Homo sapiens: one gene and its partner. The protein of the gene in region 2 interacts with the protein of the main gene of each other region in a biochemical or structural test. Each region holds a gene or a part of one and is shown on either strand. Other genes may lie near its edges. The genes, in order: ERBB4 and NRG2.

The links.
Region 1: the proteins of NRG2 (region 2) and ERBB4 form a complex in vitro, tested with the Homo sapiens proteins (2 studies listed by BioGRID).

The regions. Positions count from the first base shown.
Region 1 is NC_000002.12:211,372,665-211,382,104, forward strand, and holds the end of ERBB4 (receptor tyrosine-protein kinase erbB-4 isoform JM-a/CYT-1 precursor), read right to left. Parts: 3' UTR 3,053-9,440; downstream 1-3,052. UniProt on the Homo sapiens protein: Tyrosine-protein kinase that plays an essential role as cell surface receptor for neuregulins and EGF family members and regulates development of the heart, the central nervous system and the mammary gland, gene transcription, cell proliferation, differentiation, migration and apoptosis.
Region 2 is NC_000005.10:140,038,357-140,050,068, forward strand, and holds the start of NRG2 (pro-neuregulin-2, membrane-bound isoform), read right to left. Parts: upstream 4,944-11,712; 5' UTR 4,714-4,943; coding exon 4,014-4,713; intron 1-4,013. UniProt on the Homo sapiens protein: Direct ligand for ERBB3 and ERBB4 tyrosine kinase receptors. Concomitantly recruits ERBB1 and ERBB2 coreceptors, resulting in ligand-stimulated tyrosine phosphorylation and activation of the ERBB receptors.

The DNA of each region.
Region 1 (9,440 bases), on a different chromosome or scaffold from region 2:
AAGTATTTTGATGTCAAGTAAGTTTGTGTCCCAGCTGTACCAATTTTTGTGTGGCTTTGAACAGGTTTTTTAATCTTTCTAAAATTTCACTTTCCTCATTTACGAAAAGAGGAAAATAATAGTACCTAACTAGTAAGGTTGTGGTGAACATTAAGATACAGTGCATACACAGGTTCTTAACAGAAAGCCAGCATGCGGCAAGCATCCAATCAGTGTCTACTATTATCTTAATGTTGTTGTCGTGATGGCTATAAATCCACACAAATATGATAGTTCCATACTAAGTAATAGCAGGGTGATTGTATAAATCCCTAAATACATGAACAAAGATGATATAGAAAAGATGATGCTTAAGATAACTGAATTGAGGCATTAAGTTCTGATCAGGATACTTTGTGCTATGTATCTGCCTCTTGCAATAGGAGTCAGTGGGCAGCTAATGGGATAAGTCTTTAATGCCTGGAAGCTTTGTTCTTCTGTTTCTAAAAGAGGCAGAAAACTGATTATATTATTTTTTTAGAGCTCTCTACTTGTCTTGGAAAGATAAGTAAGTAGAAACAGGTCAAATATTTTGCAAGATGGGTATTTGTCTTTTGAAAACCTACGGGTAACCTACAAGAGCAGTATTCCAATATTCATTCACATGTCTCCTGTGTACCATTTGATTTACAGTCTCCTGATTGCTATCTTGTGGTGAATTGTTCTGTTTATAGCTTCAAAATTGCTATCTGGGTGACAGTCTTCTGTTTCTAATCTTCAGATGGTTGTCTAGTGGCTTTGCTCCCCATGGCTTATCATGCAGCTTGATAACACTGTGGAGGGAAATACAATTAGCTAACTACGCACCTGCTCAGTTTATAGTTTTATGAGTCCATCTTGTAGTATGATATACATTATGGGGCTTGTGATAGAAGTTCTTGAAAATAGAGATTTTGTATGAAGTTCTGCAATATATCAATATATCTTTAAATATTTTACATCTCTTTATATGTTCTGTATATGTATATCTACTACATCTCTATATATTCTGTACATATATGTATGGCTGCATATATGTGTCTCCCCATAGGGGCTTTTTAAATTAAGCAATTGTGAATTCAGGATTTTAAGACTATAAAGCAGGAGAGAGTAGCTAGAGTCAGAATTGTGACGTTCATTTTAGCCTTGTTAGAAGCTCTTCTATACCGCTTTATATACCTCACAGCTTTTCTATAATTTCTTCCTCTCATCATCGTCATTTTAAATGAAGCTTTGACATTGGATCAGGATCAGATTCTACATTGTGAGTATTTTAGAAGTTTCCAGTGACCACTTAGCCTATAATAAACGCTAGAAAATTTACCAACTTATTTATAAATTAGGCATTTTATATGAAGTTTCTCCTCTATTAACACTAATATATGCAATAACACTGCTAGAGATAAGTGTAGTTATCTGCAATATTCTCTGATATATGTGGGGGAGAAGTGGGTGCCTTACCAAGCAGATTTCTAACACCTTGGGCAGGGCACACCATCAGTAGGCTCTCCACATGGTGGTGGTTTTGTTGTTGTTTCAATTATTTTACTTGTGATTATGTTGCACTTAATCTTTCTAGAATGAAAGAAACCTCATCCTCCATTATAGATAAGTTGCTCCCAGATAGTTTGAGGATGTGGAATAAGGTTTTTAATTGCATCACAAGAGCGGTTGTCAAAAAACTAATAAAAGACCATTGAAGGTCTTGACCTTCATCAGTGTGTCAGCTTTATGCATGCTTTCATCAGAAGGTGGTTACTCCTTATCAGAGGAAGAAAGAAAAGTGGTAACTAATTAAAGAAAGATATTTAAGTCAGAATATGAAGCTTTGAGAGTGAGTACCATCACTTACTAATGGTTGTATGATTCTAGTTTACACTTGTTATTTCAGTTTTATTTTCCTTATATGGGTGACTAGGATTATTCTAATAATACTTACCTCAAAAGGGTGCAGTAAGCCAAATGAACCAACATATGAAGAATTTTATAAAGCACTATGTAATTAGTAAGTAGTATAACTGCTATAAGCTAGCAGCATGGTGCCACTGGAAATTTCAATTGTACCTTAAAGCATTAGGAACACAAGTTGTTTCTCCTCCCTTCTCAGTTTATAGTTGTTTAAAATGCATAGTGCCCTGACATATCTTACCCTGAACACTATGAAATCACAATGATTTCAGATGAAAGGGCCATAATATATAAGGGAGGGTATGTGTGCAGGTCCATGCAAATAGCAGGTGTTATTAACAAGATCTTTGAAGCTCCACAATTGAACAGGTTTAAGAAAATTTACTCCAATATATTAGGCTGAAAATATATTTTTTGTCCACTGACTCAGTCATCATTCTATACAGTCAAATAACCACAGTAGTTTCAAAGAATAACAGAATCTCTAATCAGAAGTTATTGGAATTTTGAAATTCTTACACTTTGGAGGCATGGAGTAATCAATGATGTTTAAAATCAAAAAGTTATATAATAAGAAAATGTTGAGAGAGGATCTTGTTCATGTCACCAATGTCTCTGAAGTCACTCTCACACTGTTATGTGGGCTTGTCATAAGTCACTAGTCAGCTGATTGACTATTTAAGGTCTTATTCTCCCTCCCCCACCTCAAGGACAGTAGTAACATCTGATATTCTTTATAGCCAAGGATTGCCAGGATCCATTTTATAAACTGCAATGAGGGCAGAAAGAAAAAAAGTATATAAAAATATTAATGTCGTTTGGATGCAACCTACAAAATATTTTATATATTTTTTTATTCTCAGAGAAACAAACCAACCAGAGTTAATTAAGCATAGCATGCACAGATGAGTAAGTCTGTACACATCAATGGGCATATGCAGTGGATGGTAAAAACATATGGAACATATCACATCCCAAACACCAAAGAGTTCTGAGGAATAACTAATGAGCTGCATAAATATGGGCAAAATAAGCCCATTTTTATATCTTCACATTATTAAACCTAGAACAAATCTTCCTCTCTGCTAGTTGGCTTATCTAATAACAAATTTCTGACACAAAAGAGAACGTTTGTTTCATATTTTATTGAATTTCATTTATATTAAATTAAAAATATATTTCTGACAGATTCATGTAACAAAAAGGCAGAACAGTTTTCAAATTGTTCAGCTGGGATGATCAGTATGGAATGAGGCAAAGCAGTTCGCATTCTATAATTGCCTTGTACAGGTACAATTCTTTCCCAAGAGCCAAAAGAGGATCCTTGAGAACTAACGGAAAAGCCTAATTACATAAATGTAAAATACTGTTTCTCCCTCATTCTCAAATAACAACAGGAATGAGGGAAAGGAAGGAGGATGGGTAAAAGGTTGGAGGAGAAGAAAGAATAAGAGAAAGTATACTAAAAATATGCCTAACATTAAAAAAGTTAGTATGTGTTAGGTGCATGATCCTTCATCAATAACATGGAAAAAAATCAAAATAACATTACACCACACACAATTGGCATATCCTATTGTGTAAGCGAGTGCAGAGGTTGAACACATCACAATAGTGCTGAACACAGAATCACAAGTAATGTCAAAATGATAACTTCCAACCAAAAAAGAAACAATCACAGGCCAATTACTTATATACAAATCAACCCTAAAGACAATTATGTTCCAAATAAAGATGTCCACAAAAGAAAATCAAAGCAACATTATACTTATTTACAAATGCAACTAGCCATGTCTTTAACAAGCTATAAAAATACTATTCACATTTTCAAACATACAGTAGTATTTTTTGTTTGTTTATTTCAAAAAGGCAGCTAACTTTGAATGCAGGGATTTAAATAAAACATTGATGGCTTACCAGCAAGGTATTTTTGCACCCCAATCCTTTGAAGATACTTCACAAGAGAGAGGGCTTGTTTTCTGCTTACAAGTTAAGAAAATAAGGAAGTGAGTACAAATGTATACACCTTAAGCCTCTGCCTTTTCAGTAAAGTGACTCCCTCTCTCACCCAAACTGATGTCAGTAAATTACTTTGATGCATGTATAAGATGAATGTTTGAGAGTAGATTTAAGATGACTTTTTTTGTGCTATGAATTGTCTTCCACATTGATCTCATTTTCATTTGATCTTCTTGTAATGGTGCTCAAGAAAGAGATGAACTAGTCATACACCATGGGAAAATGCGGTTTCAGCATGCAGCCACGCAATCCCTGGTGCTCTCAACATGAGAAGGAGACACACCAGCCAGGGAGACAGGCATTCAAAGTTAGCTGCCCTCACACAGCTGCTCCGTTTAATAATCGACCCATTTAACAGCAGTACCAGTTTATGCTACATATTTCAAAGTACCTTACTTTAAAAGAACACCTTACATATCTACATTTAGAAAATAACTTTCGTAGTTGATTACTGGAGTAATCCCAAAAGGGTTCTTGGAGTGCTATGGTTGTAGTCCCCTCACTCCCCCCTCCCAGCCCCTGAGAGATCCAGAAATATACAGGAAAATGACTCTCACATTAAGGGAAAAGGACAACCCCCAATTAACTAAAAAATCTGGAAATGACATTTGAAAACCAGATTCGTGTCAATATACAGGAGGTATGATTTGCTTTCCTTCACAAAGGCTATAGGCCTGGGGGAAATATCTACGCATTGGGGATAAAAATAGCAGTAAAGGCAAAGTGGTTTGGACAAGTTAGACTATTGCCTACAGGTATGAATCTTTGTTTTCCTATATTTGTATATTTGCACAAATATAACCACTTCTCATGATATAGGGAAAGCTCACTAGAGCATGAAAAGAAAAACGTCCATAAAGAGCAAAAGTAGGTAAAGGATGGCATTCTATTAAACAACATGGATTTTCATTAACATGAACTGTCCTCATTATGTATTTGTTAGATGGATGAATGATCCAAAAAAGAATTGCAGGTGGTTATCAAAGCTGAATAGCCTTTACCTTTATGATAATAAGACTCCTCATTTGGGAGAAAAAAATTTACAGCAGCTACAAAATATTTACGATTAGGAACCAAATAAGATGAATAAAGCAAATAAGTTAATTTACTGGCAAAAATAACTTCTTGGTTATATGTACAGCTTTTATGTAAAGATTAAATCGAAGTTCTACCAAGTGTATGTGGACATATGTGAGTTTCAAGATTCATCACAGGGCTAACTCGTCTCAAATTCCTATAGGGAAGGACACAGAGAATTGATCTTCATGGGAAACCATAATTTTAATAGCTTAAATATTCTCTATGCGGTAGTTTGATAGTTCACTTAAACAGTGTCCAAATTGCTAGAATCTCTTATGAAAAAATCAGGCATTCGAGGGCAAAGATGAAGTCAGTGTTTCACAAAGTGGGGTGTAGGATCTCAGAGATCCACTATGGCTTAAGAAAGGAACAGGACAGCATCGGGGGACTACTTTGAACCAGGGTGGTAGAAAGGGAAGAGAGCAGTGCCAGTTGTGTCAATGGGCAAAAAAGGGAAGGATTCTATTTTCCTCTAAAGGTCAGAGAGAAATACATTTTTCTTTGATTCCTAACAAGGTAATCACTTACTTGCAAAGCTGACTGTCAAAGAGTATTTTCCAGAGGAAGCATGTGAATACCCCCCGTGAAATTGGGGCTTAGAGTCATTTTAGCTTGTGACTATAGAAGCATTTACTTCTGCCCAAAATGTCACCTGGCCAGGAATTAGGTGAGGCAGGGGCCTGCAAAAGTGACAGATCCTACATTTTTGGACCTCTACAAAATCAGTGAGACTTGAACCGAGTATCTGAAATTTCTATTATTTTAGAGAGACTTTTAATGAAAAGAAAAAAGCAGCTCACACTGCTAAAAGATATTTGCCCACACAAACACAAGGGCCCCTGGCCCGACACAATGCCCACAACAGCTTCTTGTTTCCAACTGCAGAGAGAACTCAGATCTCTGGGATCAGAAAAATTTTATTAATTCTACCCAGAAGTATAAAAACTGGCCCCATTGTAATATCAGTAATAATGAGGTCTCCACTGATAATGATCTTTTAAAATTATGCCTGATCTCATCTGTATAATATTTGTTCTTAAGCAAATAGCAACCAGGCGATACCAATCTGCATTTATATGTTTACATGGGGCAAGGCTGTCCTTCAAACTGATACACACCGAAGTCCATGTACACAAACAGAGGCACAGTAAGATCCTCTGCCCACAGTATATACAGTAGAAGTTAATTTATCTGTTTCTTTTTTTTTTTTTAACAACTAGAAGCTGATGTTGTAGGATCAGCTCTAGGATCCTCTGCCCACAGTATACAGTAGAAGTTAATTTATCTGGTTTTTTTAACAACTAGAAGCTGATGCACATGGATTTCTCATTTGCCCTATAACAATCATCATTCTAATAACTAAAGTCCAAAAGAATGGCAATGCAATAGTTTGAAACGCTTGGTTTAGCATTTATTTATCAGAAAAATTGTGATTCTTTGTTGTCATTTTTGGAGGCAAGAGGGCATAGTGAGAAAAGAAAGGACATATCACCAATTAACTGTATTTTGTTTGTTTGCTAGCTAAATGACACCACTCCTTTTTTTTTTTGTCTCTGCATAAGGTAATAGAACATTTACATTTTCTTTACTTCATCTTGAAGACCCTTACTTAGTCATATGTAACATGTTTGCCTATTAAATTCTGCAAGGTGGTGTTTATTTAAAAAAATAAATAAATACAATTTTCTTTACATTTAAAAAGTGATAAAGGAATAAGAGAATGAGAAAAAATTGTTCATTGTAATGCTTTAAAGCAAGTTTTCCCAAGTGGAACCATATATGCCTACTTTCAGCTAAACCCAACAAACAACAATTTTAAATGGCAAACTTATCTTTTTACTATGCAAAATCCATCCTACATTTTTATATCCTGCATTTAACTTTGTTACATTATACTTGTGGTTAGTTTTCTAGTTTGATTTATTTAATAATATTAAAATCATTTAACATCTGATAACCTAACTAAATCTACATCTTATAGCATTATCGTGGTTCTGTCCAGTTATATACATGCTTTCATGATCACCTTTTCTATTACCTTATGAACTACATATACTAGTTAAATTATCAACAATTACAGATGGATGAATAATTCCAGTTTTGAAATAAAGGTTAGAGAGCTCTAGAAAAACTTGTATTTACATCCTTCCCTGTCAGGCTTAAACAATTTTAATTTTCTTTTCATTTTTGATACTTCAAGAAGCACATTAATAGTCCTTCCAACTTCATCTAGTAGCAGAGCCTCACACAGTCCTTTTCTTGATTTTTCCTTAGCATTGTAAGTATGCACAATCTTCATGCCATGTCTTTCCTTTAGAAGGTATTAGCTCACACACTATAACACTTAAACACTATTCCTTCTCTTAAATTAGATATTCAGTCCTTCTCCCTAATCTACAAAAAAGAATCACTTGATTTTAGTTTGTGTGTTTTAATAGAAATTTGAGTTTTGCGTTGTTTTTCATGCTATTTTAAGAATGTTACTGGAGAAAGGATTCTCATCCTAAGCTGTGCTACTAATACTATGCAGAAAACCAGGAGCTGCTTGGTAGTCTAACACCTTTTGTGGTGCAGATGCTTTGTGGTTCTGGATCTATCCTAGATCAGAGGCCATCTTTCCTCACCTGTTTACCACTTTCTTTAGGCAATCATTTAACTGCAAAATTTTTCCATACCTGCCCAAAATAGGTATAATCTACAAAGTTGGGTGATTTAAAAAATATACTCCGTGTAATTTTAATACTAATTTGTCTCAGATTTACATAATTGATTCTGCAAATTTCAATTGCTACAATTGGCCTCTGGAATCTGATATCCCCCCAAGCACTTTGAAGACTTTAACTGACATTTTAAAATTCTACCCTACTGGACTAAATAAGTTATTCTCTGGAAGGAATGAAACTTTTTTTCTCCCTCTTATACATGCTGAAATATGTTTTCCCAGGGGGGACAAAAATAAAACAAAAAACACTCAAACAACTGAAGTCAATTATATACTACAGAAATCATTCAAAAGAATTATAAAGTGGTGCTATTATAAAGCATTTGGGTCATTTTGGATTATTCCTACATGCATCTCTAGGTATTACCCAACATGTAGAAGTCTTGTGTTCTTAGGAGGAAAGAGACATTCACTAAATACATTTCTGTTACCTTAACAGTTAAAAGTTTGTTTTAACTATTCATTTTTTCCTTCTCCAAAATGAGTGATTCTGCTTTCTATAGCCCAGTAGAAACCATATGCATATTGTAAATCAGAAAAAAAAAATCAAGGTATAGTATCCAAAAAGAGGGCTGTGATGACTCGATGCAGATTTATTTAGAAAGGGAGGCTTATATTCAATTTTTCATAAGTACTGATATGAGATCCCTTTTCCTAGAGACTTCTCTGAATGGATAGGAGAGCCCTGAGCTATTAGATTGTGGCCCCTGAATCACTCTGTGTCTTTACCCCTGAAAAGTTTGAGGGTGAACTTCACTAGAAGGAATCTCACAAACCCTTCTCCTGCTCTACCATACTTTTTCAGCTCGCCTCACTTCTTATAGCTTAGAAAAAAACCAACTCCAATGTCTCCAATATTCTTGGCCAAGGACCACCATCTGCTTTTGGTTTAATGGTGAAGTTAGACTCTAGATAGGCTAATTAGTCAGTGATGCAATATTCTCCTAGACCAGTTTATGTTTGAATAATATTATTGAAATTATCCTGTTTGTCAACATCAACAATTTGAAGGATGTTTAACTTATATCCCAAATGAGTTTAAAGGAGATATCTTACAGTACAACTGATTATATGACAGCTATTCACAAAAGAGACTATGCAATCTGATTGTTGGAACGCATAGAAAAATTAAAATGTCATTTTAATTAAATCTCCTAGATCATAGAATTTTGAAGTTGAGGATGATATTCCATTTATCTGAGTGTTCCCCACAAAACATGGTGCTTTTAGTAGACACAGTTAGATAAAGGAGGTTTGGATGGATGGATGGATGGATTTACTTGTTCAGAATAGGAAGAAACACAAATTTCTTTGGATTTTTTTCTCTAAACTTTCTCTGCCTTAATAGATATTTTTACTCTAATTAATTAATCTTATACTATTGATTCTAATTTGGTCCCAATATTTTAACATTAGAAATATTTTTTAAAAATCTAAATGACTTGGGGTAGAATTTTCAGAAAAGGGCGACTTATATCTAAGTTTCCTAATTATTGATGTGAGGCCCCCTTTACTTGGAGACTCATCTCTGTCATTTGTTCTCATCCTTCATCTCATCAGGTATTCTTTCAAAATGATACATAATAATGATGGTTCTAGTACTGGATGCAGTATATGAAGAAAGGGAATTATATAAAGTATCAAAAGATTAGTGTGTTGGATAATAAAATAATTGCATGAGAAGATGTTTCAC
Region 2 (11,712 bases):
CAAAAGAAAAAAAAATAAGAGGGTCTTTTCCAGCAAGATCTTTATTCTCCAGTGCTCAAATCCCATTAACACTAATCAGCACAATGATTAAGCACATTGTGGTTAAGTACTCTAGTTGATAATGATTCTTTCGGAAGAAAGGTTCCCATAGCGACAGGTAAAGGCTATCATCAAACTCAGCTTTTCAGCACAGGACTTGATGTCACAGGTCAGAGAGTTAAGATTGTTTTAGTTTTAATCTGGAGGCTTTCTTTAACTTCACTTGACTTTATCCATTCAAATGACACTGATGGAGAGTCCTTCTATAAACCAGGCAAAGTACGAAACGCGGCAGGGCAGGAGAACTAGGAGAAAGAAGACCTCAAAGATAAGCTATTGTTCCTACCCCAAGAATGCAGTCTGCCGAGGAAAGCAGCCACTACAAGAAATAATGACATTAGGGTGGTAATTCAATCGTTAAATCTACAACCATGCCTTGTCCTCATCACTAGGACTGGTCAGTTTCTAATCTAGTTTCACTTTCCCATCTTCAAGCTGCAGCACAGCTGGGTTTCCAGCTGGCTGGGGAAGAAAAGATTCTTTAAATAAACAGCATTTAAAAAATATGTAGTCGCTTTTGCTATACTGAATTTTGTGAACCACCTTTCTCTAATATGTGAATCTGGGTGCCACATTAATTTAAAACTATCCTAAAGAATGTAAAAATCCTTAGGAATACACCTTTCCTTGTAGCAACAAAGTACACTATACACTGGAAAACTGCTAATCAGGAAATCCCAAAGAAAGAAATGATCTTCATTTTTTATGCTATTTACTGCATCTATTCAATAAGGAAACTGCTTAAAAACATGAATATAAGAAAACAACAAGATAGGGTGTAATTATACCAAAATATATGCAACCATCTTTTAAAATGCAGGACTATTTGCAGAACATGATGTTTTTATAACATTGTACAGAATTGCTAATCCCTGCAAGGCCTTTCTAACTCTTTTTCCTCGCCTTTCCACAGAAGGCACAGAAAACACCTCCCTCCATACAATGCAATCTTCTAAGAAATGCAAAGATTTTACTCAACTCTATCACCAGATGTACTCTTTCTGGATAAATGATACACATTAGATATGTAAAAATATCACTCTGGCAGGTCTTGCTCTTCCAGAAAGACCCCTGTCTACCTTTCCCCACCTTAGATCACAGACTTCAAGTCAACATTTCATGGTGGAAACGAGCCATTTATGAGGACTGATAAGAAGAGGTCCAGTGTGACCTCCTGCATTGATGCTCCTGAGGCCAATTTTTAAACACAATATTATCCCTCCATATTTTGCCCCCCTCCAAAAAAAAACCCACGGGCTTTCTAGGTGACTTCCCAGAGAACCACACCTCTCAGAACCTACACACACTCAGACCTGAAACTAGCTAAACAAAGCAACAATGCAACCTCAGTTGCTCAATGTAACGGCCATGACGACAGTTTCCAAGTGCCAGTTTCCCTATTTTGCAATGGGCAAATCTGCTCCAAGGAGAAAATGTTCCCAATGACCCTGTGGCCCAGAGGGCTTTCTTTAGAATAGAAAACAGAAAATGAATTTGTTAGTTATTTCCTGCTAAGCACAAGGACAGTGTTGTGGTTAGTTAGGATGATTTTGTTTCCTTATTTAATATAGCATTACCAGTACATGTTTTCTTTAACCACATAGTAGAAAACAAGAAAATGCAGTTTATGCTCTTCTGTTATATTATCACCAATTCCACAAGTCTCACAAATATGTCCTTTAATTTCTAATCCCCTTATATAAGGCTCCCCAAAATGGTACCTATTTATATACTTCCCTTTGAATATCAATTCAAAGCAATTTTTTTTTGCATTCTAAAATGTTTACTGCCATACACATTCCTGATCCTTGATAATTTGTGATATGTGAGGGCCCTTCCTTTACCAGTGATTGCAGTTCTAAATGTATCTTTTTAAGAACTATACTACACATGCTATTTTGATAATATGAGATGATCATAACCTAGAAACAGACCATATTTCTGCCCCTCAAATCTTTCATGATTTCTGCATTCAACTGTTAAGCTACTGAATACCCACTAGAACAAACAATGTGTAATTGATAAGGTGTATTGTGTTGGGGGAAGGAGAAAGTAGGAGGAGGGAGACAAGGGAGCAGAGAAGCCAGTTACTCTATGGGGTTATCTGACAAAGACCATCAAGTCCTCAGCGGCCCAGACTAGGGATTATGTGGAGATGTACACTGTGCAAATGCAGGAGCAACTCACCAACAACCAAACAGAAGCTGTCCTTGGACAAGATTCAATAAATATTTTTACTATCTATTTTCCACTGTACAATACTGTTTCACAGCTCCCCAAGGCATCTCAGAGTATTTTAATACTCCCCAAGTATCAAAATACTTAATAGAATAAAAAATTAGAAATTCTTAGCTGGTCTCTACTTGTCTTTATAAAACATTTCAGAACATAAAACCAATAATAAAAAGCAGTCAACAATATTCCTAAGGATAATGTCAGAGCGATAAACTGCTGTTATCCCCCAAAGTTTTCCCCTCCTTATTAAGACATTGCCAAGATTCTTCTCATTAAAGTGATCACAGTTTAACATAGTTAGTGTCTAGATATACTCCCATCACTAAACTCCTAAAATTTGCCTCCTGAAGGGGGTGGGGGAGGAAAGCTTCCAAAAATCATAGGTATCGATCTAGAAAGATGAAGGCAGCAAAACTTACTATAAGCTGTTACACATATTTTGCTACTCAAACAAAGCCTGTCTACACTACCCAGAATCAGTTGGTAAAACTGGTAAACATACCAACTTCTATGAGAGTACAGGACATCTATCATAATTCAGCGATTACACAGTCCAGCAAGTCATACCGCATGCCAACAAATTCAGCTTTAGTTGGGACAAAACGAAACCTCAATTTGAATAAGCACGAGACAGGCTTACACCAAATACTCCAGTGTGGGACAATTTGATTTGAAATATCTTACTAAGAAGTAAGTACTGGATTCAGGGACAAGAAGAAAAAGCTCTTAGACTGACATTTCTTTGACTTTTGACATGGGAGACTTCCATTCCCAGCTGCAGAGATCTACAGATTTCAGTGTTTTGTTTCTAATCACCTGCATTCCTGTGCAGCATCCAACATCATGAAGATGAGAGATGCAGTCAAATACATCCGGCGAGTAAGACGTTAGAGCTGAACTTAAAGCATTCAGCAGAAGTTACTCTCTTTCATCATCATCACAATCAACAGACCTTGTAATTCCCCCAGAAACAGCTAAAAAAAAAAAAAAAAAAAGGTGTCTGCTTGCTAGTCTTAAGAGAAGGATGTGCTACCTGCTTAGCAAAGACAGGCAATCACGATGAAGAAAAAAACTGGAGCCACATGGAGGACGGAAAACAGTAGCAGAAAAAGTCCAACTCTGCCTGCGCCAGCGGTGTGGATGAGCAGAGCAACGAGCCCAGGAGAGGAAGGAGGGGGCGGGGGCGACCATTCCCTAGGAGAACTTGTAAGCGGAGGCCTTCACAGCCTGGGAGTCTGCCCAGCTGCTCCCGCAGACCCTGCCAGCCTGGGCACGGCAGGCCCGCGGCAGCAGGGCAGGCAAGGCCTCCGAGGGTCACTCCTGACTCACTGAGCCTCAGGCCAGCACCGCCAGGACCTCTCCGTTTTTCCTTCCGCTACTGGGCTATGATGGCAGCTTTCCAGCCCCACATGCCATACATCAGCCGCAGATCCCCGCTGGCACAGGCCAGCGCCTCCCTCCGCCCCCCACCCCTGGCACACTTTGAGCCTGATCCTTCTTCTCTCCAACCCCAACCCCCTCACCCACCCGTGCCAGGCGCCCTGCCCAGGGGCGGCCCCACCCCCCCAGCGCCCGGACGCTGCCAGGCCCGGGCACCTGCAGCACCTCCCCGCCCCACCCCCATTCTCCACCACCTCGCCCCTCCCCCCTTTCTCCAGCAAAGGGAGGGGGCGACTCACCGCAGTCAGTGCACAGGATCTTGCCCACCTCTTTCTTGAGATTTTTGCCGTTGGTATCGAGGGGGGCAAAGGCCGTCTTAAAGACTAAGGGCTGTTCCGTGGGCTCCAGGAAAAAGATGTAGCGCTGGTTCCTTTCGAGCGGCACACAGGAGCCCACGCTGATCACCTGCTCGCGCTGCAGCCCCCCGCTCCGGAGCGGCCACTTGTCCAGCACCTTTACCAACGCCACCCGACCCGAGGCGGGCGGCTCTCGGGTGCTGTTGGAGCTGGAGCCGCCGGCTGGGACCAGCCCCTGTACCTTGCCCTCCACCACCACGGGTGCCTTGTACGCCTGGTCCTGCACTGACTTGAGGCTGGGCGAGTAGCAGGCGAGCGACACACCGAAGAGCAGCATGGAGAAGCCGGGGGCCGGGTCGCGCCTCATGCCGCCGGCGGCTGCGGCTCGCGAACGGGCGGCGGCTCTCCGGGCTGCGGGGCTGCGGGGCTGCGGCTGTTGCTGCGGCCGCGGCTCTGGGGGCGCAGCGGGACGAGAGATGCTGCTGTTGTTGCTGCTGCTCCTGCTGCTGCTGCCGCTCTCGCTGCTGCTGCTGCTGCTGCTGCTGCTCCTCTCGCTGCTGCTGCTGCTGCTGTCGCTGTAGCTGCTGCACCGACCCTTCTCCAGTGGCGGCGGCGGCAGCGCTGAGCAGCAAACCTGCCGCATCTGGCCAGGCCATTTGGGGGGCTCCGCCGCTCAGCCGCCGCCGCCTTGGGAGGGGAAACAGAGCCCGCTGGAAAACCGGAAACAGCGTAACGTTAGCGCCTCTTAGCCCTCCACCGGCAGCCCGGGGAGGTGGCCCAGCTAGGGCAGGGGGCAGGCGGCAAGCGGGCCGCGATGCGCAGCGCGGCGCAGCGCAGCGCTCCCACCCTGTGCGCCAGGACCTGGAGGAGGATGCGGAGGATGGGACGCCCGCCCACTTGCTCTCTCGCGCCCCCTCTGCCCCCGGACCGAGTAGGGAGCGCGGCTTCTGCAGGGGAAGCTTGGGACTGCACTGCTTTAGTGCCCGCCTTCAGCCCGCAGGGGCGCGGGAGGAATCGTGCCACCCTTTGCTCCCGGGATTTATCGGCATGACAGTGGGGGTGGTGCGTGAGGAGAAGGCGAAGAAGAGATAACGGGCTCCTGGCACCATCCTATGAACGTGGTAATGGGACGCAGGGCGTGCCCCCTGCCTTTGGCCAGCAGCTGTAGGAGCCAGAGAGGTTGCCATGGCCAGGGTGGCCGGCCAGCCTCTCGCCTCTTGGGCTGTCCTCTTTCCTAGGAGGACCCTGGAGCCCAGCCCCTAAATGATACCACGTGCTCGGTCCTGCCACCGCCTGGTGAACGCTGGATATTCGACTTGAGGTGGGGGAGAATCCCAGCCCCGTCATTTTGGAAAGAGTTGGGCCACAAGGTGTCTTGTCTTAGCATTGAGGACACCCAAGCAGAGGTGGTAGCTGAGAAAGGGCCCAGTCCCCAACACTCTGGGCTTTCTTCAGCGGCCACGTGGGGATCTGGCTGAGCACTGTACAACCTCATCTTTTAAAAATCTGATCTCTAAGAAAGGTGGGGGGCTTCTTGGGAGCCAACAGAGAGCCAGAGCCTGTCAGGGCCAGAGGCTGCTCCATAAAAAAGGTTTTTTTTGTTTTGTTTTGTTTTGTTTCCAAGGCTGATGCTTGCAAGAGGCAGAAGAGTTTGCTGCACTGGAGCCAGCATCTGATTTAAAACACACACACACACACACACACACACACACAGGTCCATAATCCATTAGCCTATCAATGAGGGTCCAGGGAGTTTTCAACACCCAGCTTTTAACCTTGAAGGATGTGGAGCTCAGGAATGCCAGTGAGCTCTTGGGGAATTTTATACCGCACTGGGCTCCACAGGAAACTGGTCCAAGGATGAGTGACTTAGGCTAGGACTGCTATTCTGGAAAGGAAGTAGAGAGAGCTACACCTTTCCTCCTAGCTAAGAGACATCTTAAACTCAATACATCCAAAGCCAACATCATTATTTCTTCCACTTCACTCCAAATCCCCTATAATTATTAATGCCACTGTTTTATTCTTTTAGACTACATCAATCCATTACAATAAGTCCCTTCATCTCATCTTTTATTCTTCCTCATCCAATTAATCACCAAGGCCTTTGGGTCTCTCTTTTAAAATAATCTCCAATTTATCTACTTCCACTCCAACTCTGCTGCAAATACCTTAAGTCCAAGCCCTCATCATCTCTCACCTGGACAACTTCTAAGCCTTCTAACTGGTCTCCACTCCTTTCACCTCATCACCTATCTCCAGTCCTACCAATGCCAGAGTGATCCTTCTAAAAATAAAATGTAAGTACAATTTGGCCATGCTACTGCTCTCAGAAGTTAAGTTCAAACTCCTCAGCAAGGCTCTTCATGGGCTCCCTTTGCCTAGCCAGCTTCATATCCTGAGAGCCAACCCCCCACTCTAGCAATCCTCAGCACTTCATGCTCTTTCTTGGTGTGCTTCTGCACATGATGTCTCTTGTGTCCAGAAAGCCTCACCTCCACCTTGACCACATGGAAAACTTATTTTCCCAAGGCCCAGCTCAGCATTATACCGCATCCCCCTTCCTACATATCCACCTCTACTCCCACCAACACATACATGATGGAATTAATCCCTTCCTCCTCTGTATTGCCATGAGCTTCACACATAGTATTACTGTTGGGATACTGGCCCATACCGTATTTCAAGCAGCCATTTAATGGGTCTGCATCTCCCATCAGGCCAGGCACGTTAATGTCAGGGACTATATATATCCTATTCATCTTTGGATTCCTATTACCTCCAACACAATGCCTGGCATAAAATAAGGATTAGCAAATCTCCAGTGAAAGAAGGAGAGAAGGAAGAAAATAACTGAAAATCGGCACGCTTAAAGGCATCAAGCCAATCTTCTTGGCTCCTTCAGTGTCCCCCATTTCATTTTCATAGATCACAGACCTCATAAATCACAAAACATCACCATAAGGAAGATAGCGACATCCACTCTTTCATTTTACAATGAAAGAAAAAGTCCCAGAGGGGATAGGGGACTTACTCAACATTTCACACAGCCAGGACTGAACTCAGTCTTCTGTTCCTGAGACCAGGGTCATAGTGAAGAGCTTGTGCTCTGGAGCCCAGCAGAGCTGGGTTTTAAAGCAACTCTGTGACTTACCAACTTTGGGATGAGTCTATTTCACTCTCTAGGCCTTAGTTTCCTTATCAGTATGAAGGAGAAAATAATAGGGTCTACTTCGTAAAGCTGTTTTTTGCTCAGTATGTACTTTCAATAAATATTCAATTGAATGGCTCCTCTGTGCCAAGCACTGAGGCACTGTATGTTACTGGATGTACTGTGGTGAACCAAACTGTTCAATAGTACATGTCTGTGCTCTCAAAGCTCATACTCTGACTGGGAAGACAACAGTAAATAAGTACACAAATGGGTAACTAATTACTTGTATTGCTGAGTGTCCTGAAGGAAATAAACAGGATGAAATGCTAGAGAATAATGGAAAGGGGAGAGGATAGGTCTACTTGGATAAGGGAAGGCTTCTCTGAGGAGATAACATTTAAGCTGAGACTAGAAGGATGATGAGGATGTGGATTATGTGAGATAATATGTAAAGTGCTTAGAACAATGTCTGGTGCACAGTAAGGGCCAAAATTAAAGTTGAAGATTACTAATATTTTACTTATACTGGTGGTTCCCAATCTAAGAGCTGAGAATCTCTAAGTGGTATTTATTTTCTGTATATTAAAAATATTCACTAGGATTTTCTGTATATTAAAAAATGCGGCTGGGTGCAGTGGCTCATGCCTGTAATCTTAGCACTTTGGTAGGCTGAGTGGGGTGGATCACTTGAGGTCAGGAGTTCAAGACTAACCTGGCCAACATGGTGAAACCCCATCTTTACTACTACCAAAAAAAAAATTAGCCAGGCGTGGTGGCGCTCCCCTATAATCCCAGCTACTTGGGAGGCTGACACAGGAGAAATGCTAGAACCCAGGAGGCAGAGGTTGCAGTGAGCCTCATGACACTACACTCCAGCCTGGGCAACAGAGCACTGTCTCAAAAAAAAAAAAAAAAAAAAGGCGATACAATTTTTCAACAGCACATGTCATGAAGAATAAAAATATTATTTTCCCCTCTCTCTCTTATTTTTTTTTTTTTGAGACAGAGTTTTGGTCTTGTTGCCCATGCTGGAGTGCAATGGTGTGATCTTGGCTCACTGCAACCTCCACCTCCCGGGTTCAAGTGATTATCCTGCCTCAGCCTCCCAAGTAGCTGGGATTACAGGTGCCTGCCACCACGCCTGGCTAATTTTTTGTATTTTTAGTAGAGACGGGGTTTCTCCATGTTGGTCAGGCTGGTCTTGAACTCCCGACCTCAGGTGATCTGCCTGCCTTGGCCTCCCAAAGTGCTGGGATTATAGGTGTGAGCCATTGAGCCCGGCCTCTTTTTTTTTTTTTTTTTTTTCTTTGAGACAGAGTCTCCGTCCCCTAGGCTGGAGTGCGGTGGTGTGATCTCAGCTCACTGCAACTTCTGCCTCCCAGGTTTAAGCAATTCTCCTGCCTCAGCCTCCCGAGTAGCTGGGACTACAGGCACGCACTACCACGCCTGGCTAATTTTTGTATTTTTAGTAGAGACTGGGTTTCGCCACGTTGGCCAGAGCAGCCTCGAACTCCTGACTTCAGGTGATCTGCCTGCCTCAGCCTCCCAAAGTGCCGGGATTACAGGCGTGAGCCACGACGCCCGGACTCTCTTTTTCTTTTGAGACACGATCTGGCTCTGTTGCCCAGGCTGGAGTGCAGTGGGGCCATCATGGCTCACTGCAGCCTCGACCTCCTGGGTTCAAGTGATCCTCCTAAGTAGCTGGGACTACGGGCACATGCCACCACACCCAGCTAGTTTTCTTTTCTTTTCTTTTCTTTTCTTTATTATTACTTTTTTTTTTTTTGGTAGAGATAGGGCCTTGCCCAGACTGGTCTCCAACTCCTGGGCTCAAGCAATCCTCCTGCCTTGGCCTCCCAAAGTGCTGGGATTACAGGTGTGAACCACCACACCTGCTCCCCACCTTTTTTTTTCAACATATCCATGTTAAAGTACAACAAAATATAACAAGATATTGCTAAGTGAAAAAAAGCAAGATGAAGAAGAGTGGTAAGATGCTACCATTTTGTCTTTTTTTAAGATGAAATATGTAAATGTTTGTAGTGCAAATTTACCTTTGAAAAGATACAGCAGAAGTTGAAACAATAGGAGGCTCTGGAGAAGGGCAGTGTGTGAATGAGGGATGGGGTGAAAGAAGGATATTTTCATGGTATTTCCTTTTGTACCTCGTGAATTTTATATCAAGTTCATGTACTAGCTATTCAAAAAAATTTTAAGAGGGGATCCTCTAATTTGTTAATGTTGCTGAATTTTTATCATGTGTTTTTCTCAAAGTCTACTTAAAGTAGAACTACTATTATATAGGATTCTATAAACAGAAAGAATATTCTATATAATGGGAACTACTATTATATGGGGTAAAACTCTTTTTACCTTAAAATGGGATTCTTATGCTAAAAAGCATAGGGAATTATTTTGCTATAATTATATCCTGTTCAGATAAACTTAGAATGCCGAGGTAAATTTTGAGACTCCAGCAGATTACCAGAATTCCTGCAGCCATAGAAAGTGGAGAGTTAGGCAGAGTTTTCTAAAGGGAAGAAAGGGCCAGGTGCAGTGGCTCATGCCTGTAATCCCAACTCTTAGGGAGACAGAGGTGGGAGGGTAGCTTGACCCCAGGAGTTCAAGACCTGCCTGGACAATATAGCGAGACCCCATTCTCCACAAAAAGGAAAAAAAAAAAAAGATAAAGGGGAGGAAGGTGCCTGTCCAGATTTCCTCAAGGTGTGATGTATGTGAGGATAAGCTTCCGAAATTGGCCTCAGCCATTTAGGGTATTTGGTTTCCTAGAAGGACAGCCCAATTTTATACTGGCTTTTTCCTGAAGTTCACAGTGAATTAGTATGTATGACTTAGAAAATAAGACCTAGTATTCCAAACCTGCTAACTCTGCACTGTAATTCAATAACTGACAATAAAAATAATAATAGGCATCATCTATTAATGGCTTGTTGTTGGAAGCTTTGTGTTTATTATTTCTGTGTCTTATCTACTTTGAATTTTTCAAATTGAAAATTCATAGTGGTTTAATAACTTGCCCAAATGACAGACACAGTTGAGACTGTAATCCAAGCTTGCTCATTGCCAAAGCACTTCCTCACGCACAGCACCGTCACAGCTCTCTGTAAGAGACAGTCTTCTCTTAGCATCACTTTCTTTCTTCCTTTTTTTTTTTTTAACAGAGTCTCACTTCTTCAGTCTCGGCTCACTGCAACCTCTGCTTCCCAGGTTCAAGCAATTCTGCCTCAGCCTCCCAAGTAGCTGGGACTACAGGGGCCCACCACCACTCCTAGCTAATTTTTGTATTTTTTGTAGAAACGGGGTTCCATCATGTTGGCCAGGCTGGTTTCGAACTCCCGACCTCAAGTGATCCACCCGCCTCGTCCTCCCAAAGTGCTGGAATTACAGGCGTGGGCCACCGCGCCCAGCCAGCATCACTTTCATTGTCATCTAAGAGGTCTCTAATTTCCTCAGACTACTTCCACATATACACTATTTGAAATTCATAACACCGAAGAGCACGTGGGATAAGCATTATTTTACAAAAACATGAGGAAAATCGACAGACGGAGAATTTAAGTGACTTTCCCAAGATCACAAAGCTATGGATATCTTTTTGCCAAGATTTATCACAAACTCAAGCTCACACTTTTGAATAGAACCACATAGAGAAATGGAAGCCAGACCTGTTCACTATACCGTGGCTTACCACAAGGTTGTGAAAAAAACTGGTTCATGGTAGCAGTGGGCTGTGTCACTATATAATAATCACTAAGAACAAAAACAGAAGTAGACAGAATGGTATAGACATTCTGAATTCAAGATAGAACACCCACATGAAAAGCTTGGCTTCTTTTCTCAGATCCCTCCCACACAGGATGGGCTTCTTCCAGCTTTAGCCAGGATAGCAGGCCAGAAAGAGCCACTGAACCAGGTTACATGGCTTACTGCAGCTAGGAGAACTGGCTAGTCAAGGAGATCTGTATGGCCTTTATCTGGTCACTGAGTCTCACAAATCAAGCCAAACACTTTGCAGGGCAGTCTCGCTTCCTAAATAAAGAAATTTTGAAAACTTATTTTTTCTCCTTTTGAGATCTGTTTTCTAAATTTGGCTTCCAGAGTCACTTTCAGGTTCTGTGGTTAATTTCTTTTCCTCCAAGGATTTTCAAACAAGGGACTAAACAGAAAACAGATATTGAGAGTCAGAATGTTAGCACTGGGAAAGGTTTTAGTATCAATGTAGCCTGATGTCCTTCTTTTACAGAGGAAGGCACAGAGACCATGGAGATTATTTGATTTGCTCAAGGTCACACAGCCTAGTTGGCGGCAGGAACAGCCCTCATTTCCTGACCCCTGGCCCAGTTCTCTTTTGTCTACTTTTCAAAAGCCTGACTCCACCTCTACTGGAACGTGAGCTTGGATAAGTTACTTCACTTTTTTGTTTGTTTGTTTGTTTGTTTTTTGAGACAGAGTCTCGCTCAGTCACCC